2 linked regions of the Homo sapiens genome follow. The protein of the gene in region 1 interacts with the protein of each later gene in a biochemical or structural test. Each region holds a gene or a part of one and is shown on either strand. Other genes may lie near its edges.

Region 1 (15,284 bases):
ATAGAGGGACAATTGCAAGACCATTTTTAGCCAGCTCAGAAGATAAATGTCAAACAGTGGAAGGATGACCCCTGGTGTGTTTAGGTGAATGCCTCAAAGTTGGTCAAAGAAAATGTGGTGGGAGGAGGGCTCAAAGTTTTATCCTACCTCATTTGATGTTGTATGATCCCTGCTAGATTCCAGAGGTCAGATTATGTGATATACAGTCCAAGAATACAATCTCAGTCCTTCATTTTAAGGGTGCAATTGTTAGACTCCTGCTCAGATTTTGGCCAGTGTGGTTTTCTTATCTCTTTTATTTCTGACAATACTGTTGTTTTTTGGCTTCTATTCTCCATCCACTCTGTATTCATACTCTTTACCCTGTGGCCTTGCAGTTCCTTCCATCAGTGAGTGGAGTGTCTTTCCCTATCACTTGAATCTGGGCTGGCCTCATGATGGGCTTTGGCCAGCAGAATATGGTAGAACTGACAGTGTGCTAGTTCTGAGACCAGACCTCAGAAGCCTTGCATATTTCTCTCTCGCTCGCTCGCTCCAGCTACTGCTATGAAAACAAGACTGGAATAGCCTATTACAGGATGAGTGACCATATGGAACAGAGCCAAGTTGTCCCAGATGAAGTTGTCCTAGATGAGCCAGCTCCTAGGAAACCTGCCAACTGCCCACACAAAGGAGCCCAGCTGAGATCAGCTTAGTCTGGACTAGATCAGCAATTTATAGTGGATTTATAGACTCAGGAGAAATAGTACATGGTTGTTAACTAAGTTTTGGGATGGTTTGTTAGGCAGCAATAACTAACTGATGCATTACATTTAATCACAGGAGCTGTGTAAAGATCCTTGACATAAATGCAAATTACACTTCAGATATGTTGGAATGATTTACTTTCCTACCAGGAGAAATACAAGTCCTAAAATGAGGAAAAAGGTATCTCAATTTAATTTGCACTTAATTGGGTCATAGGGCTATTTAAGAATTTTTCATGCATTCATTGCAAATTTTAAATCATCCATCAAAGTTTTTTAGTAACTTTTGCCCACTTTACTTTTGTGTAATTTGGTTTAAAAATTTTTTGAGTAAAACTTAAAAAAATTTGCAATATCTCACTTTCCTCAAAACACTTTTAAACTTAGTCATATACATTACAGCCTGTTGAAATCTCCAAATGGACTTGAAAAGAACATTACTGATGGAATGAGCTAAGGAATACTGAAGGCTACCACGTATTAATCACAACGTTATAAACTTTACATTTGTTATCTCACTTGACTCTCAACAATTTTTTTTTTTTTTTTGAGATGGAGTCTTGTTCTGTCGCCCAGGCCGGAGTGCAGTGGCACGATCTCAGCTCACTGCAAGTTCTGCCTCCTGGGTTCACGCTATTCTCCTGCCTCAGCCTCCCCAGTAGCTGGGACTACAGGCGCCTGCCACCATGCCCAGCTAATTTTTTGTATTTTTTAGTAGAGACGGGGTTTCACCGTGTTAGCCAGGATGGTCTTGATCTCCTGACCTCGTGATCTGCCCGCCTCAGCCTCCCAAAGTGCTGGGATTACAGGTGTGAGCCACTGCGCCCAGCCAACAATTTTTAAGGTAAAAATATTCATAAGTAGTTTTATAGATGAGGAAATTGAATTTAAATAAATTGCAGAAGAGTACAAAGAAGTAAATAATTGATCGAAGTTTCAAACCCAGGTGATTTGCCTTGTGTCTGTACTCTTATTATCACCCTCTATTGCTGTTCCTAAATGAAGGCTTCACCTTTCTAAAGGCATTTGTTTCTAATTTCTTTCTTTTTTTTGGTCTGGCTGTGTTTTAATGCCTAAACACACTTTGATTAGGTTAGTGAGAAACTTTCTGGCATATGATAAATTGTTGATAAGCATTCATAGTTCATACTTGTGTGTCACTTTTCTTAGTCTCGTGCTTTTTAATAAGTATTTTGATGGAAAGGTGGGTGAGGGCAAATTAGCCAGCTGCCATCCTCATCTGACACTTGTTATCAACATCTCTCTCTTTTTTGAATTTTTAATTTTAATTTTTGATCAACATATATTAATAATCTAAAAGTATTACAAATAATAATTTGTAAAATTTATACACTGTATATTTTGCTTCACAATATGTTTTTCATTTATTTATGTTTAATTAAAAAAAAATAGAGACAAGGTCTCATGATGTTGCCCAGGCTGGACTTGAACTCCTGGGCTCAAGTGATCCTTCTACCTCAGCCTCTCAAGTAGCTAGAACTACAGGTACATGCCACCACACATGGCTTTTGCTATATATTTAAATGACAAATCTCGTTGTTTCCGTTCCTGGCTTTAAAAATCTTTAGGGTTCTCCATTACTTGCCAAATGAATTCTAACAGCTGGAGCAGGGCATGTTTGGCCTATCACGTATGTCTCAAACCTTTGCTTCCAGTCTTCTCTCTGACACCACTCTCTTTGCTCCAGTCAAATTGAACTCTTCACCAAGTACATTCCCAAGTACATTCTGTTCTTTCTGTCTTCTGCTTTTTCATGTATGCTTTTCTTTCTTCTTCGGATGTCTTTTGGTCACCCAACAAACTTCTGTTCTTCATTCAAAGCTCTATTAATAGAGGCGTTTCTAGCCTCCCTAGCCATATTAGAGTGGTTGCTCCTCTCACACTGATAACATGTCCCTCTCTCAGCACCTGTATCATATTGTACTTACATGTTTAACTTGACCACAAGTTTAGTGTGATTGATATTTACACTGCCTATCATAAAGTAAAAGCTCATTAATAAATTTTTTAATTAATAAAATAAAAAATACGTGCAATAAATAGAAAGCATAGCTGGTGAAAGAAGGTAGAAAAAAGAAACAACAGGCATACAGATTGGAAAGCAAGAATAAAACATCCTCTATTCACAGACAACATAATTATCTACATTGAAAATTCCAAGAAATCTATACAAAAGCTACTAGAATGAATAAATGAGTTCAGCAAGGTCACAGGATACGTAAAAAATACACACACACACACACACACACACTAATTATTTTTTTTCTATTCTACCAGTGAATGAGTTTTTATGTTTTTTTATTTTCCATATTTTGTGGTGCCTTGACATCTTAGGGACTTTGCAGGCTTGGAAGAAACTGCCCCTCCCAGGGCTAGCTAATTCCTAGAGATGGCAAACAACTTGTCTGAGAGCCCACCATTCATATGTAAACCAACCAATCCAGAGTCCATGCCCACAACCACCTCCTTTGTCCAACTCACATAGCAAACCAATTTCCCTTGCCCTAAGTCTCCCCAGGGACAAGTACAGGACAACTAGAGACTACCTCTGTAGCCCACAGCCACTGAAATTATTGGAACTATCAAATCCTAGACTTGCTCAAACTGGCCTGCCCTGCCTGGCCATTCCGTACCACAGCATACAAAATAGAGGCTCTGAGCCATGCTCTCCCAGGCTTCTGCCTCCTGATTGACCCAGGAGCTCCCCCTGTGGCCCTGCGCGGTATGCCATGCCTCCTGTTTCTAGGGTTCTGTGAGTATAAACTTCTCCCTTCATGAGAAGCATTTCCATGTCTGTATGTCTGCATGTGCATACTTAATTAAAACAAATCCCAGGTACACTTTAATACAAAGTGAAATTCAAAATTAAAATCAATACCTTTTACAATAGTACCAAAAAAATGAAACTCTTAGAATCTACATGGAAACTCTTAGAATCTGTGTAGAATTTGCATACTGAAAACTTCAACTACTGATGAAATAAATCAAAGGAAACCTAAACAAATGCAGAGAAATGCTAAGTTTGTGGGTTGAAAGGTATTCAGAAATTGGAAGATTGTTAAAATGTCAGTTCTTCTGATATTCATCTATAAATTTAACACAACTGCAATCAAAATCCCAGTGGGAATTTTTTTGTAGATATTGACAACCATTTCTAAATTCATATAAAAAGGCAAAGAAATGAAAATAGCCAAAATAATGTTTAAAAAGGACAGAATTGGAGGGTTCACACTACCTGATTTTAAGGCAGTATACATCTACAAAATAGTGTACTATTTGTAAAACAATAGAAAGACAGATCAGAGGCACAAAACAGAGAATATAGAAAGAGACCCCTACAAATCTAACCAAGCGATTATTGAAAAGTTGCGAAAGCGATTCAATCAAGAAAGGATCTTTTCAATAAGTGGTGCTAGAAGAATTGGACATCCCATGTGCAAAAACAAGCCAACAAATAAAAAAGTCACCATCCATAGCTCACACCTAAAAAATAATAAGAATTCAAAATGAACCAAATACTTAAGTGTAAAATGTAAAATCTTGAAACTTATCAGCAAAACACAACTCTTTGTAACCTTGGTTAGTCAAAAGAGTTCTTAGATATACCAAAAGCATGATCTCTGAAAGAAAAAGTTGATACATTGAACTCCATCAACTTTAAAGACATTTACTCTGTGACAGAAACTACTAAGAGAATGAAAAGACAAGCCACACATGGGGAGGAAATATTCAGAAAACTTATCTGACAAAGACATTGTATCTAGAATACAGAAAGAACTCTCAAAAATGAACAATATAAAAGCAAACAACCCACTTAAAAATGAGCAAAAATTTTGAGCACTTTACTACAAATGATAGACGGATGGAAGAGAAGCACAAAAGTAGATGCTCACCATCATTAGTCATTAGGAAAGTCCAAATGACAATCTTGTATTATTGGCTACAATTTGCTCCTGTGCAGAGACTATGTGAGATAGCTTCAACAGCTCGGTCTTTTTCCTCCCCTAGTTATAGTGCGTTCACTTCCGACATTATGTTGAAGGCCTATCCCCAAAGATAAAGCCCCGGATTGGTTCAAGTTATCGTTTTCTCAGCATTGTAGGGACCATTTGTGAATGGTGCTCTGTTTGCTAATCTTTATCTGCATGTGGCCTGAGATGAGCAGGTGAGCAGGCATGTCACCCCCTCCCTGGGTCCTCCTGGGCCTCGAGTTACAAAAGGTGGAAGATTCGGTTGCATGGGCATTATGATAATACAGGTGTTTGTATATGCATCTCAAAACCTTCAACATTCACTTTACGCCATTATATAAGGTTAGTATTAGGAGGGACGCACTGGGACTGTGACTTATTATTTATAACAGTATTTTGAGTACATTAGAAACTTAATAAATATGACTACTAGGATGGCTTTAAGATTCATGCCATGTCTTTTCCTTTCTCCACCAAATACTCTTCTCTTTAAGGTTAGGGCAGCTGACATCTGTAAACTCCAGATTCAAGGTCTTCTGCTTGAAACAAGACTTAAGGAAATTACAGAACTAACATAGCCTTTTTGCTTTCTTCTGTAAAATAGGATCATGCTACCCAGACTACAGGGGGACTGTTAGGAATAACAAACAAAACAGGCCAGGCATGGTGGTTCACGTCTGTAATCCTAGCACTTTGGGGGGCTGAGGCAGGAGGATTGCTTGAGCTCAGGAGTTCAAGACCAGCCTGGGCAACTTGGCAAAACCCCATCTCCACTAAAAATACAAAAAACAAATTAGCCAGGCATGGTGGCACACACCTGTACTCCCAGGTACTCGGGAGGCTGAGGGGGGAGAGTTGCTTGAGCCTGGGAGGCGGAGGTTGCAGTGAATGGAGATTGCACCACTATACTCCACCCTGGGCATTGGAGTGAGACCCCTCACAAAAAATAAAAATAATAAAAATAAAAGGGGACAATACACAGGAGTCTGTATATGCTGCCATTGCACCTGACATGTAGAAGCTGCTCTACAAGGCTTCTTTATCTACTCAGGATGTGAAACTTTGTGTACTGCTATTTTAATATCTTTTGTCTTCAGTATAAAAAAAGCAACTCCTCAGGGGAGGATAAAGCACACCACAAGGATTGCTACATCAATAACCTCTATGAGAGATGTGGACTTGTCAAGTCATCTCCATGATGGATAGAACAGAGAGCAAACATCTCTGAGCCAAGTTGATGCTGATTCACTGAAAATAATGAGGTGAACATCCTGGCAATTAGTTGAGGTAAAAAAATTATCCTTTATTGTGGTTTGGTGACATTGTGCTAATTTAGAAACCATGGATGCTGGTTTATGTGAAAGTTTTTGTTTTCTTTCAAGTCTCTGGTTGGAAACATCACATGGTTGGTTGCTGTTGCTGTTTACTGCCACAGCCTGTTCAAGTCTATTCTCGGAGAGTTTTCTTCATATAGGAGTTGGTACTAATCCAAGTGTAAAATCCGGAGAAATGTGTGCACAGCTTTCTGTGTGGATTCTTAGCTAAGGTTTGAAAATGGTCTGCTTTGAGCTCATCTGACCAGAAGATCTGACTGCTGTCAGGCAAAGAAAAGGGTCTGTCAGGAAAGGACTGGGCACCCCAAGTGGAATACGGAAAGAGAAGGGCTGTGCCTCCTTGCAGAAAAGAGCACAGCTGGTGAAGCTGCCTTCACATCGTCCAAAGTTTCCAGTTCTGGAAAGTTCCAGTTGTAAGAGTGAAATCAATGCCAAGAGGCAGGTCAGTGGAATGAGAGGCACTGAGAAACTAGCCACTGTGGGTGGAAGGGGAAGGAGATTTGGTTTTGACAAGTCCGTACTCAGGTCTTCAGTAAGGAGTTCTGAAGTCAGGGTGAAGCCTTTGTTTATTCTAGAGGAGGCGGAGTTTGGGGTCTGGGAAAGAAGATAACTTCTCAGAAAGTGAAAAAAAGCTCATGTAGAGGATGCTGGGCAAAATAATGGGAAGGAATAAATCAGCATTGTAGAGAATGTGGTTGGATCATAAAATCCCAGGCTATAGAGATTATGTGCTCAAAGCCTCTGCATTTTATGTGAACACACACAAACCAAATGTCGACCAGATGCACAAAAATGTGCATACATGGAGCAGCCAACCACCAATAGTAACCAGCATTTCACTTCTCTTTGCATCTCAGTTGGCTGTACCTGGAAGGGTCTAGACTTTGCCTCCTTCTCGTTCTAGCATTCTGACACTGTGTGCAGTGTAATAGAAAACGCGGTTTGGGAGCTAGGTTTGCCCAACAATAGATATTCTGGGGTGATTTTCATCCTTTGCATTTGTCATTACGATGTTTTGTGTGCTTGTGCAAATACAGGACGGTTCCTGAAATGTGTCTCTGAGCGTTCTTAACTGTGTGTAAGGTAAGCGAGGAAAGTGTCTAAGACAGAGGCCAAGAACACCTGTCACAGGGTACCCGCCTAGAGTGTCTGTACCGCATCCTTTCTGCTACACTGTTTGCACACACACAAAAGGGCCGAGGAGCCAGGGTTGGTGTTGGATATGCCCAGTACGCGTGCTGGGTGTTGGAAGGATGGGGCCGGCGGTAACAAGAATCGATATATATTTACCGCGGGGGCGGGGGTGGGGGTGCGCGGAGGCTGCAGGGCGGGGCAGCGCTAATGAGAGCAAGCCCGGCTTGTGGTTGGTTCTGGAGTCTGGTACCCACAGAGGAGCAGGCAGGGAGGGAGGGGATGCAAGCGGGAGGATAAAGCGATGAAGTGTGCTGCGTTACCGCGCATCAGGCGCTGTTGTTGGAGCCGGAACACCGTGCGACTCTGACCGAACCGGCCCCCTCCTCGCGCACACACTCGCCGAGCCGCGCGCGCCCCTCCGCCGTGACAGTGGCCGTGGCCTCCGCTCTCTCGGGGCACCCGGCAGCCAGAGCGCAGCGAGAGCGGGCGGTCGCCAGGGTCCCCTCCCCAGCCAGTCCCAGGCGCCCGGTGCACTATGCGGGGCACGTGCGCCCCCCAGCTCTAATCTGCGCGCTGACAGGAGCATGATCTGTGCCCAGGCCAGGGCTGCCAAGGTAAGCGGGCGTAGCGCGGGGACACTGTCTGCCGCCCCTTCCCCCCCGCCCTTCTCTGGGCGGCTTCCCCGCCGCACGCGAGGCCCCGGCAGCGCCCTCCCTTCTCGGGGCCGAGATCCACCCTCCTCCCCACCCTCTCGCTTCTCCCGCGAGGTTCAATTGTCAGCCTGGGTCGCGCCGCCGCCCGGTCCGGGCCGGCATCCCCGGGTGGCGACCCCGGCTTGGGTACTGCAGGCGCACCCGGCCCTCCTGCGGGGTACGGAGAGAAACAAAGAAGCCCCCAAGCGGGTTCGCAGCGCCTCCCCCGCCCCTCAGCGCCCTCCCAGTGGCGAGGAGGTGTCAGGGGAGGGGGCGGAGAGACCTACGTAATCCCCCTTCCCAGCCCACACCCACCCCTTGTGAACCAAAGCTCTGGATTTGCGCTTCGCCTTGGGCTCGCTTTTGAACAATTGTGTCCCATGCAATGCCCGTGGTTAGCCCAGAGAGCGCCCAGAGCCTCCGCACGGGCTCGCCGGTGCTCGCTCGAGGGGCGCGTGGCCAGGTCCGGCCCTTGCTCCCATGGACGGGTGCAGGAGGGGAGGAGGCGCTGTGTGGGTGCTCCCCCAGCGCCTCCCTGTTACCGGCCGGCTGCGCCGCTCAGCCGGGCCTGCCACCTGAGTTTTAGCGGGAGCAGTCATGTCGCCTACCGTATTGCGACTTGCAGACAGGCAGGGAGGGAGCTGCCGGGGCGGGGAGGGGGGGGGAATGCGTCCGGTCCATTTTTGGCTGGAGGTGCGCTTCCTGCTACCCCCACGTTCCCGGGCGGTGACAATGCAGCAAAATCCGAGGGCTCAAACAATGTGGCCCCTCCATCCCCGGCTCCAGGGCATTCTGATTGCTCTGCCGCTTTGACGTCCCGGCCACTTGGCTGATTTTCAGAGCCATGATGCGCGGTGTCTCTGTCTTGCACACAGAGGCTGGGCACCATAACTTCTTCCCTGCCGAATTTCAGCGCGTAGGGGGAGCTGGCAGGGACACAGGCTGCAGAGATGCCCGGCTTCCTGTGGTTCCGGGCACAGCGCGCCTCAGTCTGCATTGGGCTGACACCAGAGAGCATGTGGGGATTTTCCTAGTTGCCGAAGAAGATATTATTTGACGTTGCTGTAGTTTTGTGCTTACTTCTCTTGGAATCTGCAGTGGTGCAATTCTCCCCTTGTTTTCCCCCCTTCTCTTTGAAAAGATATCAATGCTATGTTCAGCAGAAACGGATACAGCAAGAGCAGCATAGTTCAAAAATTGAGGGAGGCATCTTCTCTCTTTTCCTGGGATTTAAACGCGATTTAGGAGGGCAGATGCCCTACCCGAAAAGGCCAACCGTTAAAGACCCCGGCAGTGTTGTGGTCCAAGGCGTCTCAAAGCAGGTGGCCAGATCTGCGTTTCTCATCAGCAGACTCACTCCGGCTGTGGCTATTACGGTAATTCATTCTAGATTGGGGATTCATTTAAAAATGTGTGTTTTCCACTAAGAAGGGATTAGAGTCCACATGCCCACCCTGGTATGAATGTGTGTGCCTGTTTGGTAGAGAGATAGATTGTGGTAGAATTCCCTGTTGGTAGAATTCCCTGTTGCCTGTTCCCTCCGCTTGCTGCTTCCTCTGGAATGTGGCATTGGAAAAACAAAGCACTATTTTAATTCCTAGACCTCCAGGCAAATTGGCCGTTCTAGTGTTTTATTTAATAATCCACGTTCTGACTAATTCCACACTATAATCCCAGTCTAGTGCAGTTGGCTGCTTTGTGGAATGACAGTTCTCTTTTTTTTTGGAGTAGTTTTTTCATGAAGGCAAATTGCCTAAGTTTGTTTAGATTGTGACATTATTGACTTGATAGGGAGGTCACATCCGGAGCTGGAACAGCCCATCAATGTATCAATACAGAGGGACTGCAGCTCTGTTATTTGTGTATATAGCATCATTTGACTTGATTCCTTTTACACTCTGGCTTTTAAAGATGGATGTATTACAAGATCACTTTGAGCTTTACCTTCTATTATGCTTCCATCTGATATGATTGTTAACAAAAGAAATATTAAAAGGCCAGATGTGATATGGAAAGACAAGCCTGAGTCTCATTCCTCATGGTAAAGGAAGTTGGACTGGCTGGTTTCTATCGTTCTTTCTAGTTCCAGCATTCTGTGGTAACTGACAGAGGAGTAAGAAAAGTTACCCAGTGTTGGAAAGGCAAATAATTATAACGTGAACCATGCAAGCAAACCAAGGATTGACTGTAGAATCTGCGGCTTATTTTTATACCTTGCAGCTTTTAAAACCCAAGCGTCTGCATTTTCCCCATAAGTGAAATTACTCACCAACTCAAACAGGTCTTTTTTTTTTTTTTTTGTCCACTATAGCAAAACATTTGGTGGAGGGTTGGGGAAAAGAGAAGAAGATTGAATTAATTGGATAACAGGTGTTCTCCTTTTGTGGAGTTATTCATTCCAACCCCATCTTAGATAATTGAGAATTCACTTTTTCCAATCATTGGTTTTTGTTTGTTTCTAATGAGACACTCTAGATAGCTGTTTCATCCTATGCAGTAATTGACAATGGCATGAGACTTACTTTCTCTGATGTAATTTGGTGTTGCTCTCAAAACTTGCTAGCGCTGTTGCTTGTCACAAAAATGGGTGAAGCAATGATTGGTCTAAATAGGCAGGCAGGCAGTGTTTTCATGCGCTATGGTAATTTTTATAATTTAGGTATAGTCAAGGTATTTGTTGATTCATGCTTAGCCACACAATTTTCCGTAGTTGTGCACTCATTTGTTTTAAGTTACAATCAAAATAATATCCTGAAATTACAGTCCCTGCAAGGCATAATTAACCACTTCTTCTCCTGTTTTCCCATAGCCTTTTTGTTCATAGAGCTAAGATAGCACTTACAATATTGCAGTTATCTGAGTTGTAAATGTGCCACAGTCTCCTTATCTTAAATATGGGATGAGCTTCTTCAGAACAAGGACATGTTTATATTCATCTCTCCAGCACCTAGCAGTTTGCCTGGTACATCATGTGTTCTCAGAAATGTTTATTGAGTGGATTTCAGGTCATAAAAATGCCCTCTAATTGTATAGGCAGGAGGTAGGTAGGAATCCTTCACTTTGTGAGTCAGCTGGGGGAATCAGAGAGGTTATGTAAGATGCTTAAGGGGGAACCGAGAGCCAGGACTCAAATCCAGGCCTTCCACCACCCACCCTCAGTAAACAAAAAAACACGTAGAGAATGAGTTCAAATGCTGTAGGTTTTGGTTATTTATTTTTTTCCTTGAATGATCTGGATTATCCATTTTGACAAAATTTATCTGATAACTGCTCTGTTCTGTCTTGCTCTGGCCTTAGAAGGAAACATGGCCCAAGCACTTTAACCTCTAATCCACACTTAAACAGAAGACGTGAGCACCCTTCTGCCCACTTTCTCTCTAAGTCCTGGTTCTATCAACCAGAGCTTGCTAGGATGATGGACACGTCTAGGGAATGTCTACTCATTATTTGCTCAAGCAACATTGAACCACTGTAAGTGCTTCTGAAATGACCTACAGTTAGACCAGAGACAACCATCCTTCCTGGGCCAGCCAAGCTTGACTGAGTCTCCCAATGGCAGGTTTCTAGACTAACAGGTGTGACTTACAGACATCAAGACACCTGCTTCTCTCCCATTTACCTGCTTCCTTTTCCATCCTAAAAAACAGGACAAGCTACATTAGGAAACCAGGAAGTTGCAATACCCACATGTCCTCTCTGTAAAACAGCCGTTGGCACATTTGATGTTCACGGACTTTTAGAGAAAACAGTATGAAATGCTCTGTGGGGTTTTCTTCAGGTCACTTTTCCTCTTTGAGGGTTAGTTTCTTCTTCTTTAAGAGTAGAAAGTTGAATCAAGTAATCCCAAAGGTCACTTCTAACATCACCATTCTGTGATTATTTTTGTTGGTTTATTCAGTTGAGCAAGTTGAAAGGAGAAAAAGATTAGAAATAATTTAATTTGGCAATATGTAGAGAAGAAATAATTAAGGCTACATGGTGCAGCCTGTGGTTATCTGATAACTACTTTGAGCCTTCTGTTAAAACTATTCTTTATACATTTCTATAATCCTTTCTTATTTGTAAAACTAAATTTACTATATTAAGGGGAAAGATTTGTGGCATTTCTTGTTCCCAGTGAGGAATGCAGTGGTGGAAAAAGTATGCAATCTCCAAAATGTACAAAGTGTTTAGAATTTGGGGGTTTAATAGCCAAGGTTCCAAGCATTTTTATTCTCACCACTGAGTATGTTTCACAGCTGAATAACTCTTATGGTCAAAGTGTTCCCTGCAATTCATCCAACAAATTCCCCTTTCAGTTTCTCTCTGGTTCCTCATTTTGCTCTTTTTTTCCACTTCTTTAGCTCCACTCAACTTCCTATAACATCCCCCACATACATAAGCCATATGCCAGTAGTACACTGCCACCCCCCACCCGCCCCACCAAAGGCAGGAGTCAGAGCTTCACAACCTCCTTACTCAGCTCAATCTTTTCTACTTTCTGAGGTTTATTCATTACCATTGCTTTTCCAAGTTAAGACACAATGAGATATAGAAGCAGGTCGAATCTTTTAACGATATTGTTTATCGTTTACGTCTTTTTCTCACAGACTTTCTGACCACCATTTGGAACCTCAATGCCATGCATTTAGGTGTCTTAAAGCCTCTTTAAATATTTTAGGAAGCAAAGCAGCATATTAGCAATTTTATGTATCCCATCCCACAGTGTTTGGATGTGTGGGTATTGGTAAGTAGTTGTACTGTTCTGTGACATGGGCACTGAAAGGAGAATGATAATAATGCAATTACTTACTGGCAACATATGACAAAGATCACTAAGCTCCTAGGTCATCTGGATTCCCATAGCAACAAGTGGTATACACTGTTTGCATTATTTGTTCAGAACTGATACTTTTCCTGATTTATTGGTCTGAAGCTTGATGCATATGGAGGCCTGAAAAATAAGGATGTGGCATACAGACAGGCTCTCCTGGTGTTATCAGGCATCTATGCATGTGATATGCAGGGAGAATTTGGTGGATGGAACTTAAGCCGGTACCAGGGGGGCGGGGGAAGAGTTGGGAAAGGACGCCATCTGTGCCCATGATGACAAATGCCATCATGGAGACTTCATTCGGGGTCCCTTTTATATATTTAGTGAAGCAGATTTTCCATTTCACACTTTCTAGATATATTTGTATTGCACAGATGTCAGGGAAATATCATGTGTGTGAAAGAAAAAAAAAAGATCAAAATTCACATCCATGGCCAGGGATTGTAATTCAATCATTTTGTCCTGAAATTGACATCCATTTAACGTGCATGGATGTTCCCTGCTTTTGCTTTTGCTTTGGGGGTTCAAGTCAGAGCAGTTGGAGAAACATAAATCTCAGCCCTACACATTGTTAAAATTCAGAGATCTAGGTTAAGGGGGGAAAAGATGGGGAGAATAAAATTAAACATATAAGACCTTGCCATCAGTGCCGTCAGTACCAGAGCTGATGAAATCAATCAGCAAGTGATTCCTCATCCTCTTTCCTGTAACACACAGATGAGCTGAAGAAACCACAGGACGCAGTCAGTAAGTTTTTATCCTCAAAAGGACTTCTTTTTTTCTTTACCGTTATTCATAATTCCTTGTGCCATCAAAACTTAAAACTACTTAATGACGTTTTCCCTCTATTTTGAATATAAATTATTTTTGTAGAAATGAGCTTTTTGAAATTGGAAAAAAAAATCGTTTTGAGGATTGTTGCCAGCTTTATTTCCCCCTGCCTACCCCCAGCATTGTCCTTGGTGTCCCCTCTACATGACCGGGCATAGGACCTGCATATAAAGAGGATGATGATAAGGAAATAATTGGCATACAAATGGTACTGTGATGTATGACATTTATAAAACCGCTCCCTGACTCCACATCCCCCATGATGGATTTTCTGTTTCTTTTTAAAGAATATGCTTCAAAAAGGTTGTCCCACTGGCCTTCTTCACTCCCTCCATCTCAGCCTCTAAAGACATATTTTATTGTGACATATTTGATTTTGACAAACAGCACATTGAACATATATGAAATATATGAAGCAAAATATGACACACACCCACCATGCAGCCTGAGACCAGAAGATCACCATCTTATTTGAAGCTACTTTTGTGTTTCTGCCACCTCTCACCTTTTGCCTGTCTTGAGAGCACCTCGATCAGGTATCAGTCACTCGTTCCTGTCACTCCCCTCCCTGTTGTCATTAGGGTCACCAATGATCTCTACCTGGTGAAGTACAAGGGCACAGCTTTGCTGATCTGAGCAGCATTTCCCATGGGGCTGTGGGGGACCACTCTTTTCTTAAGCACCTGGCTTCTTCCAGGACACCAGATTCTCCTGGTGTTCCCGCAGCCTCTCTGGCTCTTCTCTCTCAGGCTCTTTGGATGGCCCCTGAGTTTTTATCCCGATTGATCTCAACTGAATTTTGACCTTTAAATGCGGGTACGGGGATTCCCCAGGCCTTGGCTCTCAGACTTCTTCCCTTCTTACTTAAATTCCTTCTCTCAACACTGTCTTCATGCTCATGATTCCAAGTTTATTTCGTCAGCCCTGACTCATTCCCAGAACTCCAGACTTGAAAATGCAACCGCCCAGCATCTCCCTTTGAATGGCACGTTAGCTTAAAATTAACATGTGCAAAATACAACCCCCGATTTTTGCTCCCTAAACGTGCTTCTCTTCTGGTGTCCTCCATCTCTCTCAGGGACAACTCTGTCCTTTCAGTTGTTCAGGTCAAATACCTGTGAGTCCCTCTGACTTTTTTCTCACCCAGATCCAGCTTTCAATAAATCTCTGTCCCTTCTCTCTCCCTCTCCATCCAGCACAGCCATCCCCGTCTAAGCGCTAGTAAGCTTTCCTAACTGGTTTTCTGTAGTCCTTGCCCATCTGCAGTCTGTTCCCTATACAGCAGCCCAAACGAGCCTTTAAAAGTGGAAGTCTTCTCATTCATTCATTCATTCAACAAATACTGCCTAGACATCTGCTGTGTGCCAGGCATTGGTTTAGGTGCTGGGATGTAGCAGGATCACAGTGCAAAACAGTCACAAGTCCTTGTCCTCCTGGAGTGGACATTGTGTTACTTCTTTGACCATAGCCCTGTTCAGGATGAAACCCAAACTCCTTACTTTGCCTACAGGGCTTGCCTTGCCACTCTCCGAGTCCCCAGTTGTCCTTGCTCTTCCTAGAACGTGCCAGGTACAAATACTGTTCCCTTGACCTGGAGGGACGGTCCCCCAGCCACCTGCATCCTGACCCCCTTTATCAGATATCACACCCTCAGAAAGGCTTATTCTGACCACACACAATGTGCTCTCTTCCATCTGCTTGTTTGCTTGCTTTTTCTTCATACCACTTAGCACCACGCAATT
Region 2 (15,085 bases), on another chromosome or scaffold:
TTGAGACGGAGTCTCGCTCTGTCCCCCAGGCTGGAGTGCGGTGGTGCGATCTGGGCTCACTGCAAGCTCTGCCTTCTGGGTTCAGGCCATTCTCCTGCCTCAGCCTCCCGAGTAGCTGGGACTACAGGCGCCCGCTACCACGCCCGGCTAATTTTTTGTATATTTTAGTAGAGACGGGGTTTCACCATGTTAGCCAGGACGGTCTCCATCTCCTGACCTCGTGATGTACCTGCCTCGGCCTCCCAAAGTGCTGGGATTACAGGCGTGAGCCACCGTGCCCGGCCAAAAGTATTGGTAAAGTAATATAAGGAGTGTCTTAAAAACTGTCAGCATACATTTTTGTTTGCATTTATTGATTTATAAGGGGTCAAAACTTGGCATAAGCATTGTAAAACTCTAAACCCAGCTGAAGGCCAGGCATGGGGACTCACACCTGTAATCCCAGAACTTTGGGAGGCCGAGGCAGGTAGATCACCTGAGATCAGGAATTGGAGACCAGCCTGGCCAACATGGCAAAACCCCGTCTCTACTGAAAAATACAAAAATTAGCCAGGTGTGGTAGCACATGCCTGTAATCCCAGCTACTTGGGAAGCTGAGGCCGGAGAATCACTTGGACCTGGGAGGGGGAGGTTGCAGTGAGCCGAGATTGCACCATCGCACTCCAGCCTGGGCGACAGAGTGAGACTCCATCTAAAAAAAAAAAAATTATAGGAAAACGTTCTTTCTACAAAAATTCTTATTATAAGGTAAATAATTTTGTCTAATTCAAAGCTTATTTAAAGTTTATGTATAAAATGAGTTAAAAAGAACAAGGAAATAAGAGAGACCAAGGAAAGTTATAGATATAAAGAGGTCTTTTTGTTAAGTAAGGTTAAAAAAAATAATTTTATATGAGAAAGAATCTTGTATGGTAAATTTTTGTCCTTAAATAAATGACTGGTTGTTTAAAAAAAGGGATGTTCAGCACAAACTAGAAAGTCCACATGTCGTGAACGGTCTGTGTAAGCTGCAATACCTTTGGTAAAAAAGGAATTTATAAAAATGTTACATGATAGATCGGGTGTGGTGGCTCATGCCTGCAATCCCAACACTTTGGGAGGCCAAGGAGGGCGGATCACTTGAGGTCAGGAGTTCAAGACCAGCCTGGCCAACATGGTGAAACCCTGTCTCTACAAAAATATAAAAATTAGCCAGGCATGGTGGTGCATGCCTGTAGTTCCAGCTGCTCAGGAGGCTGGGGCAGGAGACTCAATGGAACCTGGGAGGCGGAGGTTGCAGTGAGCCGAGATCATGCCACTGTACTCCAGCCTGGGCGACAGAGTGAGACTCCAACTTTAAAAAAAAAAATTGTTTTAAGAGGTAATGAATGCTGGTCCATGTCCATTCCTATCTGGCCTACAAAATTTAATGGGCTGTAAATCTTTTAACTGTAAGTCCCTGGGTCATAGGGAGTCAAACTGAGGGACAGGATTGACTGAGGGTGGGCAGCCACACTCGCCCAGCAACGCTGAGACACAATAAAGATTTGGTGGACATGGATGTTGCCTCTGGCAAATCTTGGCCAGAAGGGGGTGAATGTAAACCAAAAATTAAATTCTAAGGCCCCCCCAGCCGTCCAAATGGACCCTTCCTCTCAGCCAAGGGCGTTCCAGTGTTAACCTGGGAACTTGTTCAGGCCATGGCGGGAAGGGGTCGTGGGTCATGCCTCCTCCCTTTTGAAATTCAGGAAAAGCTGACTAGCATTAACATCAACACAGGCCTTAAGTCTGATAGGAAACATTAACAATCTATTCTCTCTGAAGCCGGCAACCCGAGGCTTCAGCTGCGTGGAAAACCACAACCCCTTACTGCAACCCAGACATTCCTTTCTATTGATAATAACTCTTTCAACCACTGTCGGTCAGGATCATTTTGAATCTGCCTATAACATAGAGGTCTCCCCACACCACCCCAATTTATCCTGCTCTTTCAGATTGAACCCGTGTAAATAAATCATGTCTCCCTAAAATGTATAAAAGCGAGCTGTGCCACATGCACCTTGGGCACCTCCCGAGATGTCATGGGTGTGTCCTTAACCTTGGCAAAACAAACTTTCTAAAGGGACTGAGACCTTCCTCAGTTTGCACCCTCCAGGCTGGGTTCTCTGTCCCTCAAGCATCCCCTGGCCAGACAATCCCTGCTGTTCAGAGGCAGCCAAGGCTTTCTGGTCCAACCCTGGGGGCTGGAGGAGGTGGGGGCAGGAGGTGGTAACTGGGTTGGGGGATGTTTTCTTGGTTGCCAAAGCAGAGGGTGCCCCCCGCTGCTCAAGATGCTGAGGGTGGTCCCTGTTGTCCTATTCCTGAAGCTGCCAGAGGAAGTCCCTCCGGAGGGCTGGCCCACAGCAGAAGGGCTGCTCCTGCCCTCAGAGGGCAATCTCAGGGTTGAGAAGGTTACAGCCACCATCTGCCACCAACCTAGCTGCTTGTGCCGATCCCACTGGCCAAGGCCATCGGCTCTATGGCTAGAGGCCTGGGCAGCCTGTGTCCTGCTTACCAGAAGGCCACAGATGCGGGTGGGTGGGGTGGTGGGGTCTTGGCAAGACGTGCTGGCCACACCTGTCCGGGGCACCTTCTCCCTGGGGTGTGACTCAGCCATGCTCCTGAGCAGGGGCCTCTGAGTTGAGCCTCGCTGCAGTCTTCCCAGCTGCAGGGCCCCCACAGGTGTGCTGTCATCGCACACTACTGAGGGACAGACAAGGCAGAGCGGGCCTCCATCTGCCGCGGGCCACAGCCGTGAGTGTGCATGCGAGTGGATGTGCTGGTGCCTGTATCTGCGGCCGGTGTGGCTTCCCTCACATAACTTTCCATGCTGTGAAAACAGTTTGGCCTGCCCTGCATGGGAACGGCAGAGGCCTGAGAGGAGGCAGAGGAAGGAGGCTGGATGCTGAGATGTTCTCCGAAGGTGGAGCCGGTGACGGCAGTAATGGAGGCAGGCTGGATTCCCACGGGCTGAGGCTGCGTGGACACTCCTCCTGGCTTCTGCCCCACGGCCTGCAGCAACGTCTCAGACCCACCAAGGTGTCCCAGAGGGCCAGAGTCAGGGCTGAGCATGGACACAGCCTGCCCTCTGCCCGTAGCCACAGCGGGACTGACCCTCAATATTCAGCCACCTTGCTGACCTGTGGTTGTTCCTGAGAGGCAGTCAGGGTTGGGGCAAAGGAGAGGGCCACAGGCAGCCAGGTGGCGAGGTCCACCTCCTGATCCCCCACCAGGGGACCACCCTCAGCTCCCCGCTGTCCTCAGCGGCCTCTCAGGGAGGCGGTGGGCTGCGCGCCTGCCCCCAGCGTCCCACCCCAGCGCCCCGCCACCTACCGCTCTCTCCCAATGTGTCTGGGGTCAGAGAGAGGTGGAGAGGACGCAGCGCCCCGCGCTTTCTGCAGTCTGTCCAAGGGGAGGTCAGGGGCATCCCGGGGCTGGGCAGGCACCTGCAGGGGAGGGTGCTGCGGCGCGGACGTGGGTTGCAAAGAGATGCCACGCGTGTCACTCTCGGGTCCCTGAACGAGAGAGCTCTGAGCTCCCTGGAGCCCAACCCTCCACTGAGCCTCCAGGGGCCCGGGACGCTCCATGCCCGGGCCGCGCCGCGCCTCCCCTAAGGGCCGGGTGGGGCGTGGGAGCGGAGGACAAGGCGGGAGCCGGGAGGCGGGAGGGTCGGGGTTCTTTCTCCACCGGGGTCGCCCTCAGCCGGGCCTGCCGCCCTGGGCCGTGGCACATGGGGAGGGAAGCGCGCGGCTTCGGGGTCTGGGGCTCTCGCGCCCACTAACGGTGCCCGGAGCCGCCCGCCAGTGCGCAAGCGCCGCCCCGCCCCCCGCCCCATCCCCCACCCCGGGGTCGACGGCGACAGAGAGTCGTGGGCGCGGTCCGCCAGTCTGCCTAGAGCGGCCAGCCCTCCCCCTCCCTCCTCACCGCCCCGGACCGCGCACCGGAAGCAGAAGCTAGGCTGGTTCCGCCCCGCGAGCGGCCATCTTGGAGGCTGAGGCGGCGGCGGCGGCGCTGCGGCGGGTTCGGTGGGCCCAATCCCGGGGCGGTGCGGCTGTTTCGGGCGCGGGCCCCGCTTTTCCGCACCCTGCTCCGGCCTCGACTACGGCGAGCCTGAGCGCGGCGGCGGCCCACGCGCAGCGACAGGGAGAGGTGAGCGCGCTCGCAGGCCTGCGCCGGGTCCTCGGGCCCGCTCGTCCCCCCTGCCGGAGCCGGCCACAGCGGCGGCCCGGGGCTGCTGGGGACCCTGCGCGACGCTTCTCCGTTCGCGCCCGCCGCCCGCGGGGCCCCGGCCCGAGCCTGCCTGCGCGGAACCCGAGGTCGGTTACGGCGGGCTCCCGGAGCTCCGGGTCAGGGTCATGTCGGGGACTTGACCACTCGGCCGGGTTTCCCGTCAGCTGGGACACTTGCAGCTGCCCCAGGACGGGCAGCCTCGATCCTGGTTCGTCAGTGGATCACGGGAGTCTGTGTCGGGGGAGGGCTGCCGTCGAGCCCGCCGTCGCCTCGCCCCTGAACTGTTAGACTCCAGACTGCCCCGTAAACCCCGAGAGAAACGAGCGTGCCCGGGACTGTGCTTAGGGCCAGCGTTTCTGGGAAACCCGGGCGGTGACAGTGGGAGACCACCGCCGGCCGGCGAGTGAGACACGAGCCCGGAACAAGTCTCTAAGCGGCGCCGGGCCTCGCCATCCACACCTGCCAGTTCCCTGCATCCTTTCAGCCCCTGGCCAGGTGTCACCTCCTGGCGTCCTTTTCAGTGCCTGCCACTTAGTGCGTGTGTATTTAACTCTAGTCCGGTTGCCATCCTCTTGCCAGACCCAGATAGGAAGCGGCTGAAAGGTCGGGCCTCAGCCCGGTGGGAGGTGGGCAGCGAAGAGTGTACAGCGGGCTTGGCTGGGGCAGGTCGGTGGCCCCGCGCCCTGCTCCAGGGGAACCAGACTGTGTAATCTGGCTTCCGAAGAAAGGATCGTGAGTATCTCGCTTAGTCTAGCACCTGAGCCTAGGGCGTGGTTGGGTCTGGGTGCCCGGAACTTGCAGTCCGTCATCTGCACGGCCTGGCACCGCTGACCTCCTTAGCAGTTCCACTCTCGGCAGGGATGTGCGTGAGTGACAGGCAGGTGAGCCAGGCAGGTAGGTGAGTGCTTGAGTGACAGGCAGGTGAGCCAGGCAGGTAGGTGCGTGGATGAGTGACAGGCAGGTGACCCAGGCAGGTGCATGTGTGAGTCGCAGGTGAGTGTCCCATTTCCATCGGCCCGGGCTTCCGTCCAGCCTCCGGAGCAGTCTGGTGGAGAAGGCAGAGACTTCCCTGGCAGTCCTGGACCTGGGTGTGCCATGCGCCTGGCCGATGGGTCAGGCCAAGGTTTCCTGCCACATCCCCTAAGCAGGAAAGAGCTGTCCAGACAAAGAGGGACGGGTGAGGGACGCTGGGCAGCCACTGCCTCAGCACCTGGGCACAGCTGCCCTCGGTGATTCACGCTGCTTTAATGCAGTTTCTGTGTGTGAACATTTTTTTTTCCTGTGCCTTTTTGTTTTAAAATCGCCAACTCTTTCTCTCAGCAGGATGATATGCTTGGTGTCCTTTGTCTGTGGGGATGTTTGAAGGGAACCCGAGGCACATATGCTTCAAACTCTGTTCTCACAGTTTGCTTCCTTTGTGGAATTTTTTTTTTTTGATACAGGGTCTCTGTTGGCCCAGCTAGAGTGCAGTGACATGATCTCAGTTCACTACAGCCTCCGGCTCCCGAGTTCAAGTAATTCTCCCACCTCAGCCTCCAGAGTAGCTGGGATTGCAGGTGCCCACCACCACACCCGGCTAATTTTTTTTTTTTTTTTTTTTTTTTTTTTTTGAGACGGAGTTTCGCTCTTGTTGCCCAGGCTGGAGTGCAATGGCTTGATCTTGGCCCACCACAGCCTCCACCTCCTGGATTCAAGTGATTCTCCTGCCTCAGTCACCCGAGTAGCTGGGATTACAGGCACATGCCACCATGCCTGATTAATTTTGTATTTTTAGTAGAGACGGGGTTTTACCATGTTGGTCAGGCTGGTCTCGAACCCCCGATCTCAGGTAATCTGCCTGCCTGGGCCTCCCAAAGTGTTGGGATTACAGGTGTGAGCCACCACGCCCAGCCCCTTTGTGAATTTTTGTTTTCCTTGTCCTTCCTGCTGTCATATTGGGATGAGAAGAATTGGGGGAAATAGCCCCCTGGCCTCCTGGGGGACGTGAGAATGCTGTTCTGTGTGAAGCTCAGGAAGAGTGGCTGGGGAAACAGCAGTTGAATCGTGAACATGATTTTAAAAGCCTCTCCAAGCAGGTATGGGAGAGAAGCTTGTTTGTGACTCATTGGATGGAATCTATTTTATTTTTGCGCGGCTGTCCATGAACTTTCGTTAAACCTGCGGCCTGGCCACTTAGCTAAGCCCAGACCCACCTGCACTTGAATTGTCCAGTGAATTATTTTGTATATGGCAGAGTGTTAGCTTCAGGGTGAGTGTCGAAAGGACAGCCTGTGTGGCGGTGCTGCTTGGGGTCATCACTGTGGCCATCACCAGGTGTTGGCCTGAGGGGAGATCCCTGGCCCATTGGCTTCTTTAGCCAGGAGCTGGGGATGCCACTGTGTGGAAGCACTTCCTTCCCAGGCAGGACTGTAACCCCATCCCTGGTGGGGGCCCTCCTGGGGAGGCACTCCTTAGGCAGAGGAACCCGCTGGGGCCCAGAAGGGCCCTGCGTTGTGTGTGGGGTCACATGGAGGCCAGTGATGTGTGACAGAGTGGGAGGCATTTGGCAGGGAAATCAGGGAGGCCTCTGAAGGCGGTGGCTCTGGCTATGCCGGGAAGGGCCTGGGGAGTTTCCAGTACAGGCTAGGCTGGGAAGCAGCTGTGAGAAGGAGTGTGTCGGTCAGGACTTTGGAGTGGGACCTGGGCCGTGCTGGGTCTTGGGAGTTGGGAACGAGGAGGGCTGGCTGGGGCTGCTCTGTCTTGGGAGCTGGGAATGAGGAGGGCTGGCTGGGGCTGCCTCTGTCAAGGGGCTGGCAGGCAAGAGGACGTGTTGATGTTTATTTGCTTGGCTGTGGAGTATCCTGAAGGGTGGATGGGGGAGTGGGTGATCGGAACAGTATGTTGACTTATGGGTACAGGAGGGCCTTGAAATGGGAAGAGACTAGAAGCTCAGACCTTCTGGACCCACGGGGGGAGTTGGGAGGCTCCTGTGGTGTTGATGGGAGAAGTGATGACATTTTGCGTTAGAGAAGATAATGAGAGTGGGAAGGCTGTGGTGAACAAGGATTGCAAGAGTCAGGGACCCCAGAACAAGAAGCAGGGTTGGGGGTGGTGCTGAGGCCACACATTTGGGAGCACGCGTTGGGTGCCCTGGCTGAGCTCTGCACTCCAGGCCCTGGGTGTGTGGGGTGAGCAGCCAAGCCCTGGCCATTGACATCCTCAGGTTGGGAGCAGACACTAAACAGGCTGCTGGTGGTGGTTCTCTGAGGAGGAATAAACCGGTTAGAGAGGCCAAGTCTGTAGATCTCTTGCAGGTGGAGACTGAAAGGAGGTGGAATGTGTGGCTGTCTACAGGTGTATGAGTTGGTTCTCATGCTGCTATAAAGATGTACCCGAGACTCAGTAATTTATAAAGAAAAGGGGTTTAATGGACTCACAGTTCCGTGTGGCCAGGGAGGCCTCAGGAAACTTACAATCATGGCGGAAGGGGAAGAGGCATGTCTCACATGGCAGCAGGCTAGAGAGAGCGGGCAAGAGCAGGGAACACTGCCTTATAAACCATCAGATCTCCTGAGAACTCGCTTTCACTGGAACGGCTTGGGGAAACTGCTCCCATGATCCAGTCACCTCCCACAAGGTCCCTCCCTCAACATGGGGGATTATGGGGATTACAAGTCAATATAAGATTTGGGTGGGGACATAGCCAAAGCATATCAGCAAGGAAACTGGGTAGAGTAGACTTCCGGTTTGTGGGAACTGGGAGGTCAGGATGGAGATCACTGGTCACTGTCCGTTATCGATGGCCACTGATGTCCACAGACGTTATTAAATCGTGTGGCCATGGCTGGGCGCGGGGACTCACGCCTGTAATCCCAGCACTTTGGGAGGCCGAGGTGGGCAGATTACCTGAGGTCAGGAGTTCGAGACCAGCCTGACCAACATGGTGAAACCCCGTCTCTACTAAAAATACAAAAAAAATTTGCTTGGCATGGTGGCAGGCACCTGTAATCCCAGCTACTTGAGTGGCTGAGGCAGGAGAATCACTTGAACCCAGGAGGCAGAGGTTGCAGTGAGCGGAGATCACACCACTGCACTCCAACCTGGGCAACGAACAGTGAGATTCTATCTCAAAAAAAAAAAAAAAATAAGGTTTGAGTTGGAGCTAGTCTGATGCAGCAGGGAGCCCTGTTTTCATCACCACCCCTCTCCCCAGTCTCAGGTGTGGCTGAGGGGCCTTGGGGTCCCTGATCCAGCCTCCTCTCTTGCATGATGATCACCACCCCTCTCCCCAGTCTCGGGTGTGGCTGAGGGGCTTTGGGGTCCCTGATCCAGCCTCCTCTCTTGCATGATGATCACCACCCCTCTCCCCAGTCTCGGGTGTGGCTGAGGGGCCTTGGGGTCCCTGATCCAGCCTCCTCTCTTGCATGATGATCACCACCCCTCTCCCCAGTCTCGGGTGTGGCTGAGGGGCCTTGGGGTCCCTGATCCAGCCTCCTCTCTTGCATGGTGCCTCGCGCCCCATGCTCGGCCTTCAGTGCTGTCTTGAACGTCCCAATGGAGCCACCAGAGTGACTTTCCTAACAGAAGATATGATCTGCCTTGAGGCTTGGACCCCAAACCCCTGTGGGGCCCGGGTTACCGTGGCTCCTGCCTGTGATTCCAGCACTTCCGGAGGCTGAGGCCTGAGAATCAGTTGAGGCCAGGAGTTTGAGACCACCTTGGGCAACATAGTGAGATCCCAGCTCTACAAAAAAAAAAAAATTAGCTAGGCGTGGTGGCATGCGTCTGTAGTCTCAGCTACTCAGGAGGCTGAGGTGGGAGGATTGCTTGAGCCGAGGTGGTCAAGGCCACAGTGACTCCAGCCTGGGCGACAGAGCAAGACCCTGTCTCACGAAAAATAAGTAAATAAACTCTTATGCCCTGGCCCTGCCTCCCTGGCCAGTCTTATCCCTGCCCTCACTGTGCTTGGGCCCTTGCACACTGCACTTTCTCAGGTGTGGCCTGTTCACCTGTGGCCCCTTCTACCAGGAAGACAGCTGCTCTGCCCAGTGAGTGCCTTGGAGTCTCCAGAGTCCTCGTCCCTCCAGCCGCAGAGGCTCCCCCGTTCTGCGGCTCGTTTTGCTTGTGGCTAGTGGTAAATGCTGGGCAGCGGGCTTCCGGGTGCGGTGAAGGGGCCGGCGGTGGTGCCTGCCCACTTCTATGGTGTGGATTCTCCATCAGTGCGGGGTCCTTGAGCTGAGTTGGAAGGTGCGAGTAGCTGCCCTCAGGAGCTGGTCTGAGGCTGTGGCCCGAATACCCCCTCAAGCCCTGTAAATGTATCCCTGCGTGAGTTTTTGGAGGACAGGAACGAGGCTTTGGGTTTCTCCTCGTCTTTGTACCTGAGCTGTACGTCGTGTCAATGAAGGTGGTGGCGGGACAGACGGGAAGAGAGAAGCCGCAGGGCCTCTGGGTGTCTGGGCGGGTGGCAAGCGAGGGTGACCTGTGAGCTGTGACTCTGGGTGACCGGGCCCTGAATGAATGGCGGGCTGCAGAGGCGGGAGTGGGGCTGCGCCAGGGGAGAGAGCTGTGGCCGGCGCTGCTTCTCGTCGTCAGTGTAGACGTTGCTTTTAACAGATGAGCAGCACCAGCAGTAAGAGGGCTCCGACCACGGCAACCCAGAGGCTGAAGCAGGACTACCTTCGCATTAAGAAAGACCCGGTGCCTTACATCTGTGCCGAGCCCCTCCCTTCGAATATTCTCGAGTGGTAAGGCTCCGCGCCACTGATCGCCCTGCGCTGACTGTCGCTGCCACGCAGGCCTCTGCCGGCCCCTGCTGGGCGAGCCTGGTGCCCCAGTCATGGCATTGGCAAGGTGCTCCTGCACCCTCCCCCGGGGTGAGTGGGGTGCCCAGGGGCCTGTGGACACTCTCTGGTCTTTTCCCAATGGACGCATGCCGGGGACATCACAGAGCCATGCTTGACTCAGGCTGGGGCTGGAGAGAATCTCCGGTGTGGGGCCCTTGAGGGGGGCGGGGTCCAGGTTGACTCAGGTTGGGGCTGGAGAGAGTCTCTGGTGTGGGGTCCTTAGGGGAGGGGTCCAGGTATGCAGGGTTCACAGCTGTTGCTGGTGTGCACTCTAGGCACTTAGAGGAGAAACTGCCTTTCTAGACTCTGCTCTTTGCTTCTGGATATGGGAATTAGCCTGTTTTGGCTTGGAGTATTTGACAGGACTAGGGTCCGACACTCCTGTCCCTGGCACTGGCTTGGGCCAGGTGCCCCGACCCTCAGGCTGACAACGAGAGGACCTGTGCCTCATAAGCATTCACCTCATGGTGACTCTCCCCCTTGCTGAAGTATAGAGTGTGAGAGTGCATACTGCTCTGTCGAAACACTGCCATTACAGGTCTGCTAGTAATTTGGTAAGAAATAAAGTGTGAGAGGCCGGGCATGGTGGCTCACACCTGTAATCCCAGCACTTTGGGAGGCTCAGGCGGGCGGATCACCTGAGGTCAGGAGTTCGAGACCAGCCTGGTCAACATGGTGAAACCCTGTCTCTACTAAAAATACAAATATTAGCTGGGCATGATGGCGCACACCTGTAGTCCCAGCTACTCGGGAAGCCGAGGCAGGAGAATCGCTTGAACCCGGGAGGCGGAGCTTGCAGTGAGCTGAGATCACACCACTGCACTCCAACCTGGGCAACAAGAGCGAAACTCTGTCTCAAAATAAAATAAAATAAAATAAAATGTAAGGATGTTTTATATTTTGATCTTTTAAAAAAAAATTACTTATTATTATTTTTTGAGACAGTCTTGCACTGTCACCCAGACTGGAGTGCAGTGGCACAATCTCGGCTCACTGCAAGCTCTGCCTGCCGGGTTCATGCCATTCTCTGGCCTCAGTTTCCCAAGTAGCTGGGACTACAGGCGCCTGCCACCATGCCCGGCTAATTTTTTGTTTTTGTATTTTTAGTAGAGACGGGGTTTCACCGTGTTAGCCAGGATGGTCTTGATCTCCTGACCTCGTGATCCGCCCGCCTTGGCCTCCCAGAATGCTGGGATTACAGGCGTGAGCCACCACGCCCGGCCTTATTTATTTTTTTGAGACAGAGTCTTGCTCTGTCGCCCAGGCTGGAGTGCAATGGCGTGATCTCGGCTCACTGTGACCTCCGCCTCCCTGGTTCAAGCAATTCTCCTGCCTTAGAGATGGGGTTTCACCATATTGGTCAGGCTGGTCTCGAACTCCTTATCTCAGGTGATCTGCCTGCCTCAGCCTCCCAAAGTGCTGGGATTACAGGCTTGAGCCACCATGCCTGGCCTAATTTTTTTTAATTCCAGAGAAAAGATATTTCAGTGAGTTGAAAGGAAATGTGTTTCGGCTTGGTCAGGGGTCCACCTTCTCTGGCTCACAGAGGAGGCCCAGCCCAGGCAGGCGGAGGATACCCAGGGTGAGGCGGAGCCCCTTGGCCACCAGAGTGCTCTCTGCCCCCAGTGTTGAAAATCACATGTGGCCCCAGGACATCGCTGGCAGGTGAGAGGGACAAGTTCCACGGTAGCCGCCTCCTCGCTGGTTGCGAGGACGTCTTCATTGTGTGGGGAAATCCCTCCCCACAAATCTGTGGGTCAGGCGTCCCCAAGTCCCGGTGCAGGTTCGATGATTCACAAAGAATACTCACCATTAAAATTACGGAGAGAAGTCCAGGCACAGTGGCTCATGCCTGTAATCCCAGCACTTTGGGAGGCCGAGGTGGGTGGATCACAAGGTCAGGAGATTGAGACCAGCCTGGCCAACATGGTGGAACCCTGTCTCTACTGAAAATACAGAAATTAGCCCGGTATGGTGGCGCACGCCTGTAATCTCAGCTACTTGCTACTTGGGAGGGTGAGGCAGGAGAATCGCTTGAACCCGGGAAGCGGAGGTTGCAGTGAGCTGAGATCGCACCACTGTACTCCAGCCTGGCGACAGAGTGAGACTCCACCACACACACACACACACACACACACACACACACACACACACACACAATGGAGAGAAAACACACACACACACACACACACACACACGAGAGAAAACTGCAGTCAGCCAGCGGAAGAGGCATGTGGGGCAAAGTCTCTGTGCTCCATTCCCAGCAGCAGGCTTGGGTTTGGACGGCATGTGTGGAATGTTGAGCAGAGAAACTCATTGGAAACTAAAACATTAGGGGAAGGCCCAGGGACTTTATGGGGCTGGTCCTAGGCACCCTCTGCCTGGCACCTGCCAAAATACCAAAATACCAGACTTCCAGGAGAGCAGGGGCTCAGCGTAGCCCATGTTGCCTGTACTGTTGAGGCATTAAGGACAGCAGCGTCAGTGCGAGAGCCCCTGGCAGGTCCTCGGCAGGTGTCTCTCCCTTCCCCGAGAGAAGACTGCTTTCCCAGAAAAGGCCTGTGGGGTGCGCTATGGGCCACGTGGATCCCATCTTCTCTCAGCCGCCCCAAGGCTGCTGGGCTCTGTCTCAGGAAGAGGATGACTTCTTCATTTCTTCCCAGTTTTCGCAGGTTGGGCACAGTAACAACGTAAGGCCACATTCCTGGGTGCATCGCGTGCTGAGCTCAGAGCCACTGGGTTCCTGGGTCAATGACACATGATAATGGCATTTTTTGAGTAAAACATACCAGCTGGCTCTGCTGATACATCATCCCATTAGTATACATTACTATACGTCATCCCATTAGTAGTTTCTTTTGAGTACTATTTCTGTCACTCAGGCTGGAGTGCAGCGGTGTGACCTCGGCTCACTGCAACCTCCGTCTTCCAGGTTCAAGCGATTCTCCTGGCTCAGCCTCCTGAGTAGCTGGGATTACAGGTGTGTGCCACCATGGCTGGCTAATTTTTGTATTTTTAATAGAGACAGGGTTTCACCGTGTTGCCCAGGCTGGTGTTGAACTCCTGACCTCAGGCAATCCACCTGCCTCAGCCTCCCAAAGTGCTGGGATTACAGGTGTGAGCCACCGCACCTGGCCTAATTTTTGTATTTTTAGTAGAGACGGAGTTTCGCCATGTTGACCAGGCTGGTCTCGAATTCCTGACTTCAGGTGATCTACCCACCTTGGCCTCCCAGAGTGCTGGGATCACGGGCATGAGCCACCGAGCCCAGCCCCCATTAGTTTTAAAGTGATGGCACACATGTCCTGGGGCAGAGCAAGGGGAAAGATGATGGCCGGTGTTGGCCGGTGTTGGCAGTTGAAGCCATGTCTGGTTTCTGGCATTTCTAGCTGGTTTTACTTTCTTCTCTGTGCTCTTCTGTTTCGTTTGGGAATCTGTAAAGCCCAGACACTTCTTTACGTAAAGCAGAAGCCTTATTTATTTGTGTGGAGGAGTGTTTAGTCGATTTGCTGCTGCCCCTGGTCTGAGGGTGAGCTCTGTGTGGGGACTGTGGCTTTGGACACAATCACGGCAGTTCCTGTTCCTTCTGCTCCAGGACAGCTGCTCAAGTCACTTATGGTTTTTCCAGGAGCACGAGAAAGGGCTGGGGGTACCGAGCCGGCCCCGCATCACTAGCTGTGTTCTGTTTAGCCTGCATGTGTGATATCAAAAAACACATTATATATAAGTACATTTAAGAATATACATTTCAAAGTACATCGTTTTTTCTTTGGAGATAGGGTCTCACTCTGTTGCCCAAATGGGATGTGGTGGCACAATCATAGCTCACTGCAGCCTTAAACTCCTGGGCTCAAGTGATCCTCCCGCCTCAGCCTCCTGAGTAGGCGGGCTGCAGGCATGCACTACCACACCCGGCTAACTTTTTTTTTTTAAATAAAGGTGGGGTCTTGCTATGTTGCCTAGGCTGGTGTCAAGCTCCTGGGCTCAAGCGATCTTCCACCGTGCCCTCCCAAAGTGCTGGGATTACAGTCTTCAAGTACATCTTAGTAATGTACTGTGAAATTAAAATTTATTTAAGATTTCAGTTATTATTAAGATGAGCTTCGTGCATGTTATATTGTCGAAACAAAGGTACTTTATGGTAAACTTATAAAGTATAGTCTCTAAGATCCTGTTACAAGAGACTAAAAGCACCCACGGTAGAAGAGACGGGGGTTTTGAAGCCGTGTGGCTGTGTGACATTTCACCTTCATTTGTTCACTGCCTGAATGTGAATGTAATTTTGGCTGGGTTCTATAAACCCCAGGCTTGGAATGATTCAGATTTTGGAGAATTTGCTGTCCTCAAATCCCAAGTAATTTTCTTCTCTCCCTTAGGCACTATGTCGTCCGAGGCCCAGAGATGACCCCTTATGAAGGTAAGGATTCTGTGCTTAGGAGAAGAACACCAGGCGGTTTTTATATTCTCAGTCAGCCTTGCCTGTTCAACATCTTTTATTTGCAAACAGCAGCCTTTCTACTTTGGATGTGTGCTAGTTAAATTGGCTTAGTTGGAACTCCTCCTCGTCTGCTTCTCCACACGCTGGAAGTGTTTGCTCTGCTGATGTGTCTCAGCCTGCAGGGCCGCCTGTAGCGTCTGTGTTCACCAGCCTCTGACACCATAGGGCCATAGCTGAGAAAACCAGACCGGGGTAAACACTGAAGCTGGCCTGTTCTACTATTTCTTAAGACCCAGTGCATATCATCAAAGGAAAGGCACATATATTCAGTTATTCAGTGTGCCTTCTGTGCTGGGCGCCCCCAGGGTTTCGCAATCCCCAGGACGGTCTCTGAGCTAAGTGGAAGTACCCCTGTGTGGTGGCACCTGGGGCTTCGGTAGGCTGCAGGACCTGTCCAGCACCTCAGCCCTTCATCGACTACCAAGGCTGATCCAGCAGCCTGACCCCTCCAGGTCAGCAGACACCACCTAGAGACCTAGTGTCATTTATAGAGAAGATGCTGGAGCTGTCAGTAAGT

The links.
Region 2: the proteins of HECW1 (region 1) and UBE2J2 form a complex in vitro, tested with the Homo sapiens proteins (one study listed by BioGRID).

Annotation. Positions count from the first base shown.
Region 1 is NC_000007.14:43,105,118-43,120,401, forward strand, and holds the start of HECW1 (E3 ubiquitin-protein ligase HECW1), read left to right. Parts: upstream 1-7,529; 5' UTR 7,530-7,790; coding exon of another isoform or gene 7,791-7,820; intron 7,821-8,886; exon of another isoform or gene 8,887-9,039; 5' UTR 9,040-9,151; coding exon of another isoform or gene 9,152-9,274; intron 9,275-12,778; exon of another isoform or gene 12,779-13,458; intron 13,459-13,829; exon of another isoform or gene 13,830-14,078; intron 14,079-15,284. UniProt on the Homo sapiens protein: E3 ubiquitin-protein ligase that mediates ubiquitination and subsequent degradation of DVL1. Also targets the mutant SOD1 protein involved in familial amyotrophic lateral sclerosis (FALS).
Region 2 is NC_000001.11:1,262,748-1,277,832, reverse strand, and holds the start of UBE2J2 (ubiquitin-conjugating enzyme E2 J2), read left to right. Parts: upstream 1-3,978; 5' UTR 3,979-4,167; exon of another isoform or gene 4,168-4,980; intron 4,981-9,840; coding exon 9,841-9,971; exon of another isoform or gene 9,972-10,063; coding exon of another isoform or gene 10,064-10,100; intron 10,101-11,542; coding exon of another isoform or gene 11,543-11,735; intron 11,736-12,242; exon of another isoform or gene 12,243-13,002; coding exon of another isoform or gene 13,003-13,050; intron 13,051-14,446; coding exon 14,447-14,487; intron 14,488-15,085. UniProt on the Homo sapiens protein: Catalyzes the covalent attachment of ubiquitin to other proteins. Seems to function in the selective degradation of misfolded membrane proteins from the endoplasmic reticulum (ERAD).